Homo sapiens: one gene and its partners. The protein of the gene in region 1 purifies or fractionates together with the protein of each later gene. This does not show direct contact. Each region holds a gene or a part of one and is shown on either strand. Other genes may lie near its edges. The genes, in order: DHX29, DNAJC17, PAPOLG, MTHFD2 and POGLUT1.

What was found.
Region 2: the proteins of DHX29 (region 1) and DNAJC17 fractionate together in Homo sapiens (co-fractionation; one large-scale study listed by BioGRID). This does not show direct contact.
Region 3: the proteins of DHX29 (region 1) and PAPOLG fractionate together in Homo sapiens (co-fractionation; one large-scale study listed by BioGRID). This does not show direct contact.
Region 4: the proteins of DHX29 (region 1) and MTHFD2 fractionate together in Homo sapiens (co-fractionation; one large-scale study listed by BioGRID). This does not show direct contact.
Region 5: the proteins of DHX29 (region 1) and POGLUT1 fractionate together in Homo sapiens (co-fractionation; one large-scale study listed by BioGRID). This does not show direct contact.

Annotation. Positions count from the first base shown.
Region 1 is NC_000005.10:55,255,680-55,259,265, forward strand, and holds the end of DHX29 (ATP-dependent RNA helicase DHX29), read right to left. Parts: intron 862-3,586; coding exon 809-861; 3' UTR 376-808; downstream 1-375. UniProt on the Homo sapiens protein: ATP-binding RNA helicase involved in translation initiation. Part of the 43S pre-initiation complex that is required for efficient initiation on mRNAs of higher eukaryotes with structured 5'-UTRs by promoting efficient NTPase-dependent 48S complex formation.
Region 2 is NC_000015.10:40,800,890-40,804,475, forward strand, and holds part of DNAJC17 (dnaJ homolog subfamily C member 17), read right to left. Parts: intron 1-3,586. UniProt on the Homo sapiens protein: May negatively affect PAX8-induced thyroglobulin/TG transcription.
Region 3 is NC_000002.12:60,794,184-60,797,769, reverse strand, and holds part of PAPOLG (poly(A) polymerase gamma), read right to left. Parts: coding exon 3,579-3,586; intron 3,061-3,578; coding exon 2,995-3,060; intron 2,807-2,994; coding exon 2,750-2,806; intron 709-2,749; coding exon 610-708; 3' UTR 1-609. UniProt on the Homo sapiens protein: Responsible for the post-transcriptional adenylation of the 3'-terminal of mRNA precursors and several small RNAs including signal recognition particle (SRP) RNA, nuclear 7SK RNA, U2 small nuclear RNA, and ribosomal 5S RNA.
Region 4 is NC_000002.12:74,197,225-74,201,450, reverse strand, and holds the start of MTHFD2 (bifunctional methylenetetrahydrofolate dehydrogenase/cyclohydrolase, mitochondrial isoform A precursor), read right to left. Parts: upstream 2,837-4,226; 5' UTR 2,810-2,836; coding exon 2,709-2,809; intron 70-2,708; exon of another isoform or gene 1-69. UniProt on the Homo sapiens protein: Although its dehydrogenase activity is NAD-specific, it can also utilize NADP at a reduced efficiency.
Region 5 is NC_000003.12:119,471,938-119,475,523, reverse strand, and holds part of POGLUT1 (protein O-glucosyltransferase 1 precursor), read right to left. Parts: intron 1-3,586. UniProt on the Homo sapiens protein: Dual specificity glycosyltransferase that catalyzes the transfer of glucose and xylose from UDP-glucose and UDP-xylose, respectively, to a serine residue found in the consensus sequence of C-X-S-X-P-C.

The DNA of each region.
Region 1 (3,586 bases):
TTGATTAAGAAATGAGAAATCCCTCTAAGTAATAAAAATGGAATTTCAAAAGATTGTTAGTAACCAAAACAAATAGGACCAATGAAAAATACCTACGCATACTTTACTATCTCAAAGTTACTGACCTTACCAGTTCAATCGCGTATATAAAAAGGGTTCAGGGGCAGGGATATCACAGCGGTAGCCTGAGGAAAACAGTGCAAACTATCCATCCCAAGGCTGACAGGAGTATTTATTAGTCAATCTTGCCTGTCTTCCAGAACCACATGTTTATGCTTTTTGAATGTTACTGAAATAGGTGGCATCTATTAATAGTGCATTTATTTAGGTTCTGAAATTGACTATCAAATACTAAATAACTGACTTCTGAAGTTGTTCCTTTTCATGGAAATTTAATTATAATTGGTTTTGGAGATTATTTTCCCTTCTGGGTCTATAGGGTTTAAATTCTGCAGACATCAAGGACTGATAGGGGATGAGGCAGCTACACAGGGAATCACAACATTAAGCTACAGATACCACAGACATAGGCCTTGCCCTTATTAACACAACGATGAGCAAAACATGCATAATACCAAAGAATTTATTGTAAATGTAGTGGCAAATACATTCAGAATAATCATCATTAAAAAGGAACTAGAAAATTATACATGTTTAAAGTATGTGCTTTTTTCCCACCACCTTTAAGTTAATGGCTAGTACCAACATTTTAAGTAATGAAATACTTAATGTGATGACCCATTTTCAGATAATTTCATGACTGTATCTTCATCTTAATTTTTAAAGCAGTTGACCATGAATTTCAGTTTCAGTTATTCTCTGTTTTTATCAATTCCGTAATGATCTGCAGAATCTTGTCATCTGAGTGGAAGGAAAAAAAAAAGCCACGAATAAATGCAACATTGTCTAATTTTCCAAGGTATGCACATGTAAATAAGAGGTATATGTCACTAAAAATTTTTACATTAGAATACAGAATTAACACCAGTAATAAAACTAGAGACACCTATAAAATATTTTTTGCCCTACATAGATTTTATTGCTGTAGGTTATGCCATACCTAGTTTGACAAAAGTTAACATTTTGAAAACAGATAACATTTGTATAGGCTAAACCCCAAAGAGATAATATGATGTGAAATGTTACTTCTTTATAAGGAATTATAAATTTTATTCTATAAAAATTCCTTGAAGAAAGTAAGTTTCTCAACTTTTTCACTTGGCTGCAATATACTGAAGGCTCTACTGACTCTTCAGTGTTCTTCAGAGTATGGCAGAATTTCCAAAGTATGAGCAAGGAAGAAAGAACTGTTACCAGTTTCTCCATGTTTAGTCCAAAGGAAACAAAAAATTCTAACAGGGAAGCGCTCTTGGAGAGGTGTCAATGCGGAAGTGACAGACCTCTCTACACAACAAAGGAATCAAATACCAATTAATTTGACAAACAGAGCAACAGAGGCTGCATTATTTGCTAAAGGGGTTTTGTTAACAACTGCTTCTACTTAATAGTTAACTCTGAAATTGTGACTTCCTAAGAACCTCACAACCACTCTTTAGGAAGTTACAATTATCAGGGCTGCAAAACTGAAATTCTACATTTACGTTAGATACTCAGAGAATGCTGTCGCTTTCAATAGTTGCAATGGTTACAGTGGCATTAGAAACAACAACAAAAAAGTGGGAGGGAGGGGAAAAAGAGAGGTCACTTGTTTGAAGTTGGAACAATGGCAGGTCTAGAAAGAACGTTTTTCTTTTTTATTTTTTAAGAGATGGAGTCTCACTCTCGCCTAGGCTGTAGTGCAGTGGTGTGATCACAGCTCACTGCAGCTCTGAACTCCTGGGCTCAAGCAATCTTCCCATCTCAGCCCTCTGAGTAGCTGGGATTACAGGCGCAAGCCACCATACCTGGCTCCAAGAACCATGATTTTTAAATTGAGGAAGAGAGAGTAAAAGAAAGTACAAGAGTAAGTTCAGTTACTGTTTTTCAAATGTTTGGCATTCTACCAACTTTTTGTTATAAATCCAAGAGAGAGCACTAACATACTTCTTCCTTCCTCCCAAGTCAAACGTATATACTACACCCAACTTGGTAAGTTCTGCTCTCTCTCTTATGGCAAAGGGAAACACTGATATCATTTCAAAAAATCATTTTGCTTAATTAAAAGCTGAGGTTCAACCTATACTTTATAAAATGTAATTCTTTCTAATGCCAAAGTTATAATGCACAAAGCTTCCTGAGAAAAGAGCCCACGTCTTAATATGTTAAGACTTGATCTGTTTCCAGCAGTATAGGAAAATTAATACATTTTAATGCTTATGCATTCATATTTAGTTATACAAATAAACACAGAGTATGAGGCTTCAGGGTAGTAGAACTAGATCAGTAGCTCCCCCAACTTGCCTGTGACTGTTGAGAATAAACTGGGGATACTTTGTTCAGTACAATCATACTGAAGTCACTGATCAATTCTTAACATTAAAAGGACAACCAAATTTAAGTGCTTCCTGGTGTGACGCAGTGGGGAGAATACAGCACCAACTAGAAAGTATTATTTTCCTCAAAACTTATTCTAATCATACCTCCAAATATAACTACCAGTTTATAGGAAATACATGAACATGTTAAAGCATGAGTATGTAACTAACCAAATCCTAAATGTGGGACATTCTACCAGAAAAACAACTCAGTTTATTAAAAATAATTAACTGCATTTAAAAATGGGATAGCCTTAGAGGGGAAATGTTACAGAATAAAATATTTAAAAAATAATATAGCCACAGGCCTCTCCCATAGAGATCAGTATGTCTGGGGTAGGTCTTTGGACCTTGTATTCTTTGCAACTGCCAGGATGATTTTGATGATTTGGCAAGTTTGAGAAACACTGCACTGGGCAAACTGCAAACTCAGATGTCCATTTCAGATTTCTCTCTTATTTTTTGATGTGGGGTCTTGCTCTGTCACCCAGACTGGAGTGCGGATACTCGCCTCAGCCTCCCAAGTAGCTGAGACAACAGGTACAAGCCACCAGGCCCGGCTAACTTTTTTTAATTGTTTGTAGAGATGGCATCTCCCTATGTTACCGAGGCTAGTCTTGAACTCCTGGCCTCAAGCGATCCTCCTGCCTCAGCCTTCCAAAGTGGTGGGATTACAGGCAGGTGTCACCATGCCCGGCTCATTTCAGATTTCTGTTGAAGGATAATGTGTTTATTTTATACAGAGAAATAGCTCTGCATTTGAAAGAAACACATGGTGGAAAAACCATGCTGAAATAAACCTAACAGAAAGTCCCTAATCATACACACACACACAAATACATATATAGGTATGTGTATATATACATATATTTCTTAGAGACAGAGTCTCTCTATGTTGTCTAGGCTGGACTTTAACTCCTGGGCTCAAGCAATCTTCCCACCTCAGCCTTCTGGGTAGCTAGGACTACAGGCATATGACACCATGTTTGGCTTATTATTTTTTTTTAAATAATAGCTATGTTACCAGTTTACTAAAATGCTAATAAGTAACAAAGTTTACTATGCTCAGTTTTATTAACCTTTTTTTCTATGAAATGGCTAGAAGTTTAGAA
Region 2 (3,586 bases), on another chromosome or scaffold:
AGAGGTTATAGTGAGCCGAGATTGCGCCACCATGCTCCAGCCTGGGCGACAGCGAGACTCCGTCTCAAAAAAAAAAAAAAAAAGGTCATGGGCCATTTGGCCCCTCAAACTGTAGTTTGCCCTACTCCTTCATTTTACATTTGGGGAAAGTCAGGTCCTGAGAGACGCAGTGACTGCCCTTGGTCTCCTGATTCTCAAGTAAAGTCGTTGCAGTGGTCTCTTTAGCTACTACTTCATTCATTCAACAAATACTTATTGAGAACCTACTATGTGCCAGTCACCAGGTAAGGGGCTGCTACAGAAGAGCATGAATCAGATCTGGTCCTCAGAAGTAGGAGTGCAGAGGGGATTAAGGCATGAGACAAATAATCACACAGATAAATACATAATTGCAAACTGAAATAAGTGCTAGAAAAAAGAAAAACCAGCTGCCATGAAATAGAATATAAGGCAAGGCTTCTCTGAGGATGCCATTTCGACTGAGTTCTGAAGGACAAGTAAAAGCAACCCAGATTAGCAGAAGGGGAGGAAGAGCATTCCTGGCAGAGGAAAATGTATGAATGAGCTAAGAAATTGTTGAGTATTGGCTGGGTGCGGTGGCTCACGCCTGCAATCCCAGCACTTTGGGAGGCCGAGGTGGGCGGATCACGAGGTCAGGAGATCAAGACCATCCTGTGAATGGTGAAACCCCGTCTCTACTAAAAATACAAAAAATTAGCCGGGCGTGGTGGCGGGCGCCTGTAGTCCCAGCTACTCAGGAGGCTGAGACGGGAGAATGGCGTGAACCTGGGAGGCGGAGCTTGCAGCCACTGCACTCCAGCCTGGGTGACAGAGCGAGACTCCGTCTCAAAAAAAAAAAAAAAAAAAAGAAAAGAAAAGAAATTCTATTGAGTATTTTATTAGAAGTGCTAAATAGGGTTTTCAGGGAGTAGCAAGATCATTCCATTTTCTGTGAGGAGAATTGGAGAGGCTCAATAGATCAGAATGGAATAGGCTGAAAGCAGAAAAAAGTTGGCAGGCTCCTCTAAACATTCAGCTGAGTGGATGGGGGCCTGGGCTGGAGCAGTAGTGGTGGAGACAGAGAGGGTGAACAGGTTTGGGGATTATTTGGGAGGCTGACTCATCAGGACCCGGTGATGTTCTAGATGGCAGGGGTGAGAGGATAGGGAGGTACTGAGAATGACTCCAGGTTCCTAGCTTGAATGGATGGATGGTGGTGCCACAAGATGGGGAAATCCAAGGAAGGAGCAGGTTTGGAGAGAGAATTGAAAGAGTTCAATTTTTTTTTTTTTTTTTTTCGAGACAGATTCTAGCTCCGTCACCCAGGCTGGAGTGCAGTGGCTTGATCTCAGCTCACTGCAACCTCCGCCTCCCAGGTTCAAGCGATTCTCCTGCCTCAGCCTCCCAGTAGCTGGGACTACAGGCACGTGCCACCGCGTCTGGCTAGTTTTTATATTTTTAGTAGAGATAGGATTTCACCCTGTTGGCCAGGCTGTCTAAAACTCCTGACCTCAGGTGATCTGCCTGCCTGGGCCTCTCGAAGTGCTGGGATTACAGACATGAGCCACTGCGCCTGGCCAATTTTTGGATGTAGTAAGATTTAGACCGCTGTGAAACATCCACATGGAGGGATCAAACAGGCAGATAGATACACAGATTTGAGATTCAGAGAAGTAGTCTGAACACAAGTTAAATTTGGTGGTGGTGCTCATCACTACCACTGAACCGCGCTGGACAGGGCCAGGGAGCCTTAGCAGAAGGAGCAGAGGCCTGAGCTGGACATCAGGGCATCAGGGCATCAGGGCATCAGGGTTCTAGTCCCAATTCTGCCACTAACCACCTTCTCCGAGCTGCAGTTTCGCCATCAGTAACACAGGGAGCTTGGCCTCCATTAGGGCTTCTTTGACTTTTGGATTAAAATTCCCTCCTCTGGCCAGGCGTGGTAGCTCATGCCTATAACCCAAACACTTTTCAGAGGCCAAGGCGGGAGGACTGCTTGAACCCAGGAGTTCAAGACCAACCTGGCCAACATGGTGGAACCCGATCTCTACAAAAATACAAAAATTAGCCAGGCATGGCGGTGCACACCTGTGGTCCCAGCTACTTTTGAGGCTGAGGTGGGAGGATTGCTTGAGCCCAGGAGGCAGAGTTTGCAGTGAGCAGTAATCATGCCACTGACTCCAGCGTGGGTAACACAGAGAGACCCTGGGTCAAAAAAAAAAAAAAGAAAAAAAAAGTCCTCCTCTCCTCCAGAATAAATACAAAAAAAAAAAAAATCACGCATGATTTTCAGAGGTTCCTTCACCCAGTTCCTGGAGCCTTTCTGTAGAGGGCAAATTGAGAACTCCTAGGCTATTTGGACAACCAGTTTAGGAGTTCTTCCTTGTATACACTTTAAATATTTGTTTGTCCTCTAGGTTGCCCTATGGCAGCAACCTAGGTTGTCTATGACAGGTATTAAACCATGGTGCGGGGACACCAGGGCCTAGGTTTTTCTTGCTTTCTACCAAAAAGTGTGTTGCCATGAAGCTAGCCAGTGTATCCAAAGTGTAAATGGGAGTAAGTGCTAGAAAGGAGAATGGCTGCTATGAAAAGAAAAATAGGTAAGGCCTCTTTGAGGGTGCCACCTACTTATGCTCCAAAATAGACTGTATGTATTAATATATACATTTGCTTTCTTGGAATGCCCTGCCTCCATCTCCACATGTCCAAACTCTGCCCATTCTTCAAGGCCCCAAATACCTTCTCTCCTGCCTTTATTCCTTCTCTCAAACTAATAGCAATCTCAGCCTACACTGAACATCCACAGCACTTTGTACCCCTCTTAAGGAACTCACCATGTCTCCCTTGTATGCGTGAATCTTGCCCCCCCATTAAAGGCAGGAGCAGCACCTGTTACCCTTTATAGAGTGGCTTCACACCTATCCCTTATCTCATCTGAGTTAGAACTGGATCCCAGCCACCACTGCCCAGCTCAGACCTTGGTCTCTTGCCTAGACACCAGCCCCATCTGACCCCCTAGTGGCAGCTCTTCCATTCCTCCCACCCCCACCCATTTTCATTATGCACACTAGTGTTGAATTTTCTTTTCTTTTTTAAGAGTGGCAGGGTCTCACCCTGTCATCCAGGCTGGAATACAGTGGCAAAATCATAGCTCACTGAAACTTCCCAGGCTCAAGTGATCCTCCCACCTCAGCCTCCCATGTAGCGGGGACTACAGGTGCGTAACACCCTGCCCAGCTTTTTTTTTTATATATAGAGAGAGAGACAGGCTCTCACTACGTTTCCCAGGCTGGTCTCAAACTCCTGGCCTCAAGCGTTCCTTCCACCTTGGCCTCCCAAAGTGCTGGGATTGCAGGTGTGAGCCATCACACTCAGTCAAATACTTTCTTTAAAATCCAATTATGGGCAGGGCACAGTGGCTCATGCCTGCAATCCCAGCACTCTGGGAGACCAGGCAGGAGGATAGCTTGAACCCAGGAGTTCGACACCAGCCTGGGCAATATAGCTGGACCCCGTCTCTGGAAAAAAAAAAAAAGCAAAAACAAACACAAAACAAATTAGCCAGGCATGATGATGCACACCT
Region 3 (3,586 bases), on another chromosome or scaffold:
AAGTTTAAATATTTCATGTGCCAATCTGGAAAAAAATAATTTAAATCAACAGAACAGACAGTACATCTACACAAATGAGGAAAGCAGAAAAGATACCTCACATTCATTTATCTCAGGTTTCAAAGTGGCTTCAATGCTAAAGTAAATGTATTAACATTTGGAAAATACAAGACAATTTTTTTGTTTGTTTTCAATTTTTTTAGCTCTATACAATGATTACAACATAAGACAAAAAAAGAAAAACACAAAAAACAAAACAAAAAAGGAGTTCAGGACTTGTTATCAGTGTCCAAGTGGCTAAGAACTGGTTCCCATAACAAGCATTGAAAGTTAAGGCAGTAAAACCCCCAAATGCAAAGCTGTAATACTGTAGATGGCAATTTGACAGCAGGTGATCCTCAGAGAAGTGTATGTAGCAATCAGTGAGAGAATGCTACAGCATCTACAGGTCAAAGTTTGACAGTTCAAAAACCACTTCAAGGTTATTAGACTGAAGGCTGTCACTTTCACCTTATTTCACGTATGACAGCCACTTCTATTTAAAAAACAAGTGGCTGCATCTATGCCACTAAATGATTGCTTGTTCACTTAAGTGAGGAGGCACTGCTTTTACCGATTAAGGGTCAGTCGAATGGAATTTTTGATGACACGGATGTTGTTTGCTGGAACTGGAGATGATGAATCTGGTAGTTCTTTACTGGGTAGTCTCTATTAGAAAGAAAGAGGAAACAAAAAAGGAAAAGCACATCATATATATTATAAAGGCCCAGCTAGAAAGTCAGTCACAAAACTTGGGGAGTTTTTCTCCCAAACCCTCTAGCTCCTAAACACTCAAGTATGCAATGAATATTTCCTTCCGTGTTCATAGGGAACTCTTGCTTTCGGAACTGCTACTTCTTTTTACAGTCAGAGGTGAAAAGCAGAGGGATAAGAGAAAGGGTAGAAGTGGCAGGAGTGTGAATATGTACAGGAAAAGAGGAACTGCCATGCCTGGATCAAGAAATGCATAAAGAACACAGTCCTTAAGGTCAAGCAAAGAAAAAAAAAAGGAAGTTCATGGTGACTAAACAGGAAGCTCTTGGGGTGTGAAGTGAAAAATGAGTGTGTGCAGTAGAGAAAAATTTAATATCTGAGAGTTATGTCCCTCAATTTGTTTCTGTAATACATTCATGAAGAAGACCACTGACTCAATCTGTGAGATACTTAAGTTCTCAGGAAAACTGAACTTTGTACTTAGGCTAGATAACTTTGATGGTTATGAAATTCAGGGACATCGGTTTGAGGGATTCTGAGGGCATTAAAGATTATTACATAAAGAAGGCAAAATCTAGGGCCGGGCATGGTGGTTCACGCCTGTAATCCCAGAACTTTGGGAGGCCAAGGCGGGCGAATCACTTGAGGTCAGGAGTTCAAGAGCAGCCTGGCCAATATGGTGAAACCCTTTTCCACTACAAATACAAAAATTAGCCACTACAAATACAAAAAGATCGCGCCATTGCACTCCAACCTGGGCTACAGAGCGAGCCTCCATGTCCAAAAAAAAAAAAAAAAAAAAAAAAAAGGAAGGCAAAATCTAGACTTCTGTAATGGGGATAGTTTCTTGTCAAGAGATGACTGCTTAATTCTCCTCTTGTTTTACCTTGGCTAAGCCAGTATCTGTATCATATCCATATGCATTAAAACAATTATGAGCAATTTCAGATATACAAAGAAGTAGACACCAGGGCAATAAGGACTTAAATGCCAAAACCAAGTTTCAGACATTATTACAATTTTGCTGCAATTGTTTGGTGTACCCACTTTCCCTTTAGACTGGATATATTAAAAAATCCAGATATGTCATTTCACTCTTTTGTACTTCAATATCCATCTCAAAATTTTTTCTTCCACCATGACACATAATTATACGTTCATATTTTTTGTAACTTAATCTTATGTTAAAGGCTCAAAATCTACAACTAATAGCCTGTGAGTATACTATTTTGCTTTAGAATAGCTACTACATCCTGGAGAACCTGGCAGGGTAACAGTTGATGAAAAGCACTTTACTATTTAATGGCCATTCTGTTTTATTATAAATTATAATTTATAATTATCATCATATATATTTATAATTATTTATCATTATTATAAATAAGCCATTCTGTTCATTATAAACTCTCAGAGAAGGTTTTTCTCTATTTACACAAGGCTGGTTTTTGAGTACTTGCTTTTTAGCATACCACACTTAATACTACACACATTTTTAGTTATAAAAGTAATTCTTCAAATAATAAACATTTAAATTACAATTTAGGGGCGTTTAGCTCATGTTTTAAAGGTACTTACTATATATACCACTACATTTGGTTCCTCTAAAATATTAATACATATGGTTCCTAATTATCAAACCTATGTTTTGGCAGTAAGCAATAGTACACAACAGAGATATACCTCCAGGTGCTTGGTAAGAAATTAATGTGCTGAGCATCCAACTGCTTCTTTAAAGATAAAAAACAAAGGGTGAACATAATCTAAATAGATAATAAAGTTGTCTTAAACTACTGCCTCTTTTTTAGACTTTTGAGGTACATACATTCAGAACTATATACTTGCTATCTCCAACCCCAACTACACTGCTAGTCCTTGGGGACAGGGACAAAATCTTACTTTTTCCCAGTGCTAGGCTCTTAATAAGCCTTTTGTACTTGTAGATTACCTATGAGTTTTTACCTATGTACTGTACCTATGAACAAGACTATCTTGTTACCTTTTTGCGTGATGTATCAATAGTTGGAATAGGCATAGATTCTCCTCCAATGGCATCCTAAAAACAGAAGAATCAACACAAGTGAAAACTAACTTTCCTATATGCAAACACTTATTTCTACTTAAAATAAAACCTAACGAAAACCTGAAAATAAATCTAATCTGACCTACTTTCTAATATGGCACTTTTCCTGATACATGGCGCTTTACAATAAATATTCTGAAGCACACTATTAATATATTTACCACTGATTTTCTTTTTCTTTCTTCAGCAGTGCGGGGGTCCTTAAATGTTGATTCAAGTCGAATAAACTAAAATATAAACATTGAAATAGATTGCTATTATGTACCTACAAAAACCCATATAAATCTATATAAACTGGAAAACTAGTTATTGGTTACACTATTATAAAAATTACTATAAACATGGATTGGTAAGAGAAGATAATTTAAATTAGATTGAATTCAACTGCCACCGTTAATTTCTACAGTTTGGGTGATCTTTTTGGTTAAATCAATTCAGATTCTAACAAATATAGTTTTACCACCACCTACTGGAAGCAGGGCATATCAACACACAAGAAATGAGATTTTGTTATCAGTAATGACTTCTGTAAATCAAGGAGAAACTCAGACCAATCATTCAAATTTTCAGACGTATTAGTAATTTCAATTTAGGATGAGCAATTAATATTGTTTCTTTAAGATTTGGGTAAATATTCTTTTCAGCCAACTCCTAACAGAACACCAACAGCTATGGAAAATTGTTTCTTTAGTATTAACTATAAAAAATATCAACTACTGAATTACCACTAAAGTTGTAACTTTACCTTTTCTA
Region 4 (4,226 bases), on another chromosome or scaffold:
AGGAGGTCAAGGCTGCAGTAAGCCGTGATTGCAGCACTGCACTCCAACCTGACCTAGGGAGAGATTCCCCTGCCAAAAAAGAAAAAAAAAAAGGAAAGAAAAAAATCCCATTAAGATAGGTAATCAACAGAATAGGAAGAAGTCAAGAGGACTGTTCAAATAAAATCCAAAACTGTGGCTCATGCCTGTAATCCCTGCATTTTGGGAGGTCAAGGTGGGTGGATCATTTGAGGTCAGGAGGTCGAGACCAGCCTGGCCAACATGGTGAAACCCTGTCTCTACTAAAAATACAAAAATTAGCAGGGCATGGTGGTGTGCGCCTATAGTCCCAGCTGTTTGGGAGGCTGAGGTAGGAGAACAGCTTGAACCCAGGAGGCAGAGGTTGCAGTGAGCCAAGATTGCACCATTGCACTCCAGCCTGGGCAACAAAGTAAGACTCCGTCTCAAAAAATAAAATAAAATTCAAAACTAAAATCCAAGTGAGTAGCATCTTCACTTTCCTTTTAATTCAATAGCTTACAGTACTGTAATTTTCCATGAGAAATTAGTATCAGGACATTTTACAATTCATAATCAAGTGATTTAGGGAAGAGTTGTTATCAATTATTAATGGGAAAAATAATGAGTGAAGGAAGACATAATGGAGAAAGGAACAAACATCTATTAAACACTAGGTGTTTTGCTTACACTTTAACATATATTACTCTGTTACCTTGGGACTATTATAATAACACTGTAATACAGAAGATGAAACTGAGGATAGTAGAAACAAGATTCAAAGGCAAACTTCTGCCTCTAAAGTCCATTGACTTCCTAATCCCACTGTCTCCTAGGCTACTATTTCTCCAACCATAGGTTTATGTTCCTGAAACTCTCATACCATCCAACAAAGAAAAAAAAAAAAAGAATGCAGACTCATATTTTTAAAAGGATACAACTTTTTAAAAATAAGCAGTATTTAAAAATAAACAGTATTTTAAAAAATAAGCAGCAGTAAGAAAGCAATATGTGGGAATTGTAAATAGCAAATGTGCAGTACAGATAATATGGATTGCTTTCAGAGATGTGGATGAAGCTTACTTGTTCTTTCAGAAAGGTAGTGAAAAGAGCATTTGTTATTGGAGAGTGTAGACAAACTGGCCCAGTTCTTTAGGTAATGAATGAGAGCATCTTTATAAATCTCTTTTGGACCATGGAAGCCTAGGAAAGGTCTGGTCCACAGTCACATGAGGCCAGCACTCAGGAAGAGGGAGAAGGGGAGAAAACACACAGTAACGAAACATGGGGGAGGTCAAGAGTCAGACCAGGGAAAACCCTGAAAGTCCCCTCCCACGTTTTCCTTCAAGAACTCATTGCTCCAACAAGCAGCGCCTTTGAAATATTTCTAACAGCATTTCCGCACTGACTGGAAATTACACGCGTGTTCTGCCCCTTGTCAGGAACATGAGCTCCATTAAGAACAGTTTTTCTCATCTTTGAATTCGCACAGCTTGGCATAGTGTCTGGTACACAGTGAACGTTAGATGAAAAAAAGAAGGGGCTGATGTTGTAAGGTGCAGGGCTCTAACAATGCCAACAATGCCAGCGCTCTAATGACCGACCAAATCACCTTCCCAAGGAAACCCAAAAATGCAAACAGAGCTTTTCCTTTCCTCCTCCCCTGTATATTTTTCCCAATTTTGTTATTGTGGTAAAATTCACATAACATAAACCTTATCAACTTTTTTTTTTTTTTTTTTTTTTGAGACAGGGTCTCGCTCTGTCGCCCAGACTGGAGGGCAGTGGTGCAATCACGGCTCACTGCAGCCTCGAACTCCTGGGCTCAAGCGATTCTCGTGCCTCAGCCTCGGCGCGTGTCACCACGCCCGGCCCATCTTAACCATTTTTAAGTGCAGTTCAGTGGTATTAAATACGTTCATATGTTGTGCAACCATCACCACCATCCATCTTCAGAACTCTTCATCTTGTAAAACTGAAATTCTGCAAGTACCGCTGAAATATGGGTACTTGTCACTCTCCATTCCCCCTTTCCCTAAGGCCCTGGGAGCCTCCCGGATGTTTGCCACCTCTATGTACGCAGCCCGGCACTGACAGGCTCTGGTGGGCTGCAGCCAAAGCTAGGGTGCCCAGAGTCCGTTCATGTTCCTGGCAGAGCGGAGGCAGCGCGGGCCACTCCCACCGGCGGAGGGAGGAGGGCGGCGCGGGGACCCCGAGCAAGTCGGCTCCGCGATTTCATCAGCTGCAGCAGCGCCCTCCGCCGCTAGGGTCCCCGCAAGGACAACTCGCCGAGGGCTGCTCTTTTGGAACCCTCGCCTGTTCTCCCCCAGACGACTCTCAGCATCCCAGCCAGAGGCGGCCGGCGCTGTCGGAAGGCTCCGCGTAAACTGATGCCTTCGCGTTCCGCACGCCACCCCCGTCCCGCCCGCCGACTGGCCACGGGCCCCGGCGACGCCCCGAGTCGCAGGAGAGCGGCTCCCTCCGAAAGGCGGGCTTCGGGTACCAGCCCTCCGCGCCGAGGAAGCGCCCCAGTCGAGAGCTGCGGCGGCGCTCGGTGCCACGTCGCCCCGCCACACCCCTCAGCGGCCACCACCGCCGGGGCGGAGATGTTCGGGAAGGACTTCCCTCGGTGTCCCTCGGGGGCCCGGCGTGCCCCTCGCCCTCCGTTCCCCTCAGCTTTCCGCGCTGACCGAGCTCTGTGACCCTCTTACCGAACTGCCGCGAGGTGGAAAGGGCGAAGGCGAAGGGAGCAGCTGTGCGCGGGCTGCAGCAGCCGGGCAGCCAAAGCAGACATTAGAGAAGTCGCAGCCATAGACCGCGCCGGTGACTGCGCCGGGAGGGAAGCGCGCGCGCGGGCCACGCGGTTATACTGCGGCCTCGTGGCAGGCCCCGCCTCCCTCCGCCACCCATTGGTCCCTGCCGCATGCCACTGGCTGTCTGTTGAGCCAGGTGGAGCCGAAGGGGCCAACCGGTTTTCTTTATTAAACGTAAGCGAAGTCCGAAAGAGCCCTGCTTTTGATTGGAGCCAGAAGAGCCTGGAGCGAGGTCCTGTAAGGCGCTGAAGCCTCGGCAACGTGCCATGATAGGCTGAGGAAGTCAAACTCCTGCCTGACGCCGCTAGTGTCACCGAAGGCCGGACAACACAAGAGAAAAGTTCATTCATTCATTCGTTGAACAATTATATGAGCGCCTACTGTGTGCCAAGCACTGTAAAGGGTGGATGAAAAGACAAGCTGATAGAATGCCAACGAACAGAAGTAAAAGGAATGATGGAGTTAGAAAATCACCATTTTCCAAAATCAGTACATGGTGGCGCGTGACTACAGTACCAGCTACTGGGGAGGCTGAGGTGGAAGGATCACCTGAGTTCAGGAGGTTGAGGCTGCAGTGAGCTGAAGGCGCGCCACTGCACTCCAGCCTGGGCGACGAGAGTGAGACCATATCTCAAAACAACAACAAAAAAAGTAAAATCATAAAAGATATTCAGAGACAGACGTCAGGGTTGCATGTGCAACCCTGATTCAGAAGCAGCAATAGATGTCAAAACAACTGGGTGAAAGTTGGATGAGGAGCAAGATATTTACATATAGGGTTGCCAGATCTAGCAAATAAAAACACAAGATGCCCAATCAAATCAGAATTTTAGATAAACACTTTGGGAGGTCATATTTATACTTTATTTATGGCTTATCTGGAATTCAGATTCAACTGGGCTTCCTGTATTTTTTCCCGCAAACTTTTTGCATAGTCTCAAAGTATCTCTCCCGCAAGGAAACTTAAGGAGGGCAGGGCGCGGTGGCTCACTTCTGTAATCCCCAGCTCTTTGGGAGGCCAAGGCGGACGGATCACCTGAGGCCAGGAGTTCGAGACCAGCCTGGCCAATGTGTTGAAACCCCCGTCTCTACTAAAAACACAAAAAATTATCTGAGCATCGTGGCGGACGCTGTAATCCCAGCTACTGGGGAGACTGAGGCATGAGAATCGCTTGAATCTGGGAGGCAGAGGTTGCAGGGAGCCGAGACTGTGCCACTGCACTTCAGCCTGGGCAACAAAAAGACTCTGTCTCAAAAAACAAAACAAACAAACAAAGAACAGGGGAAACCAATCCTGTCAACACCTTGACCTTTACTTCTAGCCTCCAGGAAGGAAAGGAAAATGGTAAATTTACAGTGAAGAAACATGACAGTTACTGCTTCAACCACGTGATCAAAGTTAGCACCACCCAGTAA
Region 5 (3,586 bases), on another chromosome or scaffold:
CAAGATTTTAAAATGACATTAATTGCCCTAGTTATTATACTTTTAGGAATTTAGCCTACATATATATTTACATGAGTGTTCACAGTAACAAGGATGTTCACTGCAGCATTGCTTGCGTTATCCAAAAAGCAAAGTGATGTGGTAAGGGATAATCTAAATGTCCACTGATAGAGGGCTGAATAAAGAAATCCATATAATAAGTTATTATGCAGCCATGAAAAAGTGAGGCATTCTCTATGGACTCTTATGGAACAATCTCAAAATCTACTGTTATATGGAAAAGAAATCTAAGTGCAGAACAGAAGACAGCATGTTTTATTTTGTTGATGAGTCTAGATGCTTGTAAATGTACAGACTATTTCTAGAAGGATATACAAGACACAGAATTCTAATTGTCTTTTGAAAAGAGGTCTCAGGGACTAGCAGTCTGAGGGTCTGAGGTGGAAGAGAAACTTCCTTTTCACTGAATGTCTTTTGGAGGTATCCAAATATTTTAGCATGGTAAAATATTTGGATATTTTACATATCCAAAGTGTATGTAATACTCTTTGACACTAAAAGAAAAAAAAAACTAGTTAAAAAATGTAAAAAAATATTGCAGTACAATTTATACATTACAGCTAAAATGCTCGTATTTCTTTCACATTTGGCTTTTAATTTAGTTTAATTTAATTTTTATTTTTTGAGATGGAGTTTCTTTCTTGTTGACCAGGCTGGAGTGTAATGGCGTGGTCTTAGCTCACTGTAACCTCCGCCTCCCGGGTTCAAGCGATTTTCCTGCCTCAGCCTCCCAAGTAGCTGGGATTACAGGCGCCTGCCACCATGCCTGGCTAAATTTTTTTGTATTTTTAGTAGAGTCGGGGTTTCACCATATTGGCCAGGGTGATCTCGAACTCCTGACCTCAAGTGATCCACTCACCTCAGCCTCCCAAACTGCTGGGATTACAGGTGTGATCCACCATGCCCGGCCACATTTGGCTTTTCAAATATACTCTCTTATATGATTCCATTTATAGAAAACTAGAAAATAATCTATAATTCGAGAAAGTAGTCAGCGGCTGCCTGAAGGTGGGGCATGGGGAGGAGAGGGAGACAGGGAGACGCAGGAGAGAGGGAATGCAAAGAGGCAGAAGGAACGTTTTGGTTGTGATGGAAGGTTCATTATCTTGGTATAAACATACATGAAGACTTATCAGTGTACACTGTAGGTTTTATTTTTAATTGATAAATAATAATTGTACATATTTACAGGATACAATGTAATGTTTTGATATATGTTTACATTGTGGAATGAGTATATCAAGCTAATTAACATATCCTCACATACTATTTTTTTGTTGTGGGAACATTTACATTGTATACTTTATATGTAATTTATGTTAACCACACCTCAATAAAGCTGTTATTAAAAAATACCATTACTCCTCATCTTTGAAATGACTTGTCTCTAGCATTAATTAGATAAACCTCTGGTTCCTCTGCTCATCCTTGAAATGTGGAGTTTATATTTTATTTTATTCAAAACTGAGTTTTTAAAATGTCACATAGATTTCTGAAACTGGATGAGTTAAAAGTATCTAGACCTGCCTGTAATCCCAGCACTTTGGGAGGCCGAGGCAGGCAGATCATGAGGTCAGGAGTTTGAGACCAGCCTGACGAACGAGGTGAAACCCCGTCTCTACTAAAAACACAAAAATTAGCCAGGTGTGGTGGCGGGCGCCTGTAGTCCCAGCTACTCAGCAGGCTGAGGCAAGAGAATGGCTTGAACCCGGGAGGCAGAGGTTGCAGTGAGCCGAGATCACACCACTGCACTCCAGACTGGGTGACAGAGTGAGATTCTCTCTCTCAAAAAAAAAAAAAAAAGTATCTAGACGTAGAAAGATATTATTTCTAACTATATGGGAATCTTTGAGATATCATACGACTGTGTGCATTTCATTCAGGATTGTGTTTTGGAATACTGCATTCTATTCGTATTTTGTCCCTCTCTGTTTTCCTTAGTTGTATATGTAGCTAGGATAGGGAACTTTCAGTGTCATTGGAAATATATATTATTTTATTGCTAATGAAGGTCCTGTACTCCCTTCAGAACATTTCTAAGCTCATGATTATGACCAAAATGTTCTGAGCTCAGGAAGAAGAGAATTGTGCCTTTCAGAAACTTTGAAAGCATTTCATTTCATTTGGCAATTGTTCAGCAAACTATTAAACATTGGGTAAGCTTTCAAAGTCCAACAATGTCTATATTCTTATTTTATTTCTCATCTGTGGAAATCAAAAATTCTCCTAGACTCACAATTTGTACTTAAAGTCTCTATTATTGAGTTCCAAATAATGAAACAAATGTCTGTTTAAAATACCTTAACGATTTTTTCCTCTACAACCTTATTTCCTCCGATATCTGATAGCCAAAGGGTAACTGATTTCCTCAGGGTAGTGAGATATTAAATAATCTTTCTTTTTTATTGTTCTTTATTATTATTTATTTGAGACAGGTCTTGCTCTATCACCCTGGCTGGAGTGCAGTGGCATAATCACGGCTCAGGCTTACTGCAGCCTTGACCTCCTGGGCTCAGGTGATCCACTCACTTCAGCCTCCCAAGTAGCTAGGACTACAAACACATGCCACCACACTCAGCTAATGTTTGTATTTTTTGTAGAGATGAGGTTTTGCCATGTGGCCTAGGCTCGTCTTGAACTCCTGAGCTCAAGCGATCTGCGTGCATTGACTTCCCGAAGTGCTGGGATTATAGGCACAAGCCACCATGCCCAGCCTGTTTTCTTGTTTACATTTATTTATTTATTTATTTAGACAGTTTCGCTCTTGTTTCCCAGCCTGGAGTGCAATGGCACAATCTCAGCTCACCGCAACCTCTGCCTCCTGGGTTCAAGCAATTCTCCTGCCTCAGCCTCCTGAGTAGCTGGGATTACAGGCATGCGCCACCACAGCTGGCTAATTTTGTATTTTTAGTAAAGACAGGGTTTCTCCATGTTGGTCAGTTTGGTCTCAAACTCCCGACTTCAAGTGATCCGCTCATCTCAGCCTCCCAAAGTGCTGGGATTACAGGCTTGAGCCACCGCACCCGGCCTTGTTTATATACTTATAAGAATAAATATTAAATTCTTACAAAGTTGTTATTAAATACAAATAATACAAATCTTTATGAACGAATCGATAATTTTTTGCAACTCTGCACATTTATTTCACTTTTAATGACAGAATAGGGATTGTTTAGAAAGATGCTCTTACATAAGGGAATATTATGCCCTCTGAGTTTTGTACCTTCTAATTTTATAAAGATCTGAGTTAAAAAAAAAAAACAAACTCCAAAAATAAAGTTTATCTTTTGGTGTGTGCAATGCTGCCTAAACCCAACCTCCACCCTCAGCCCATGACCCTCCCTGCTTACCACCCTGCCTTCAGCCCACTGACATGGTACCTCAGGTCTCACACCTGAAGTTCTGAAGTCCTGGCTAGTGTAATTTGCAGCACTAGTTACTCCTCTTTATTTATTTATTTTTTAATAGACAGGGTCTCACTCTGTTGTATTATTTGCCACTGCCGGATTATTTGCCATAATCCAAC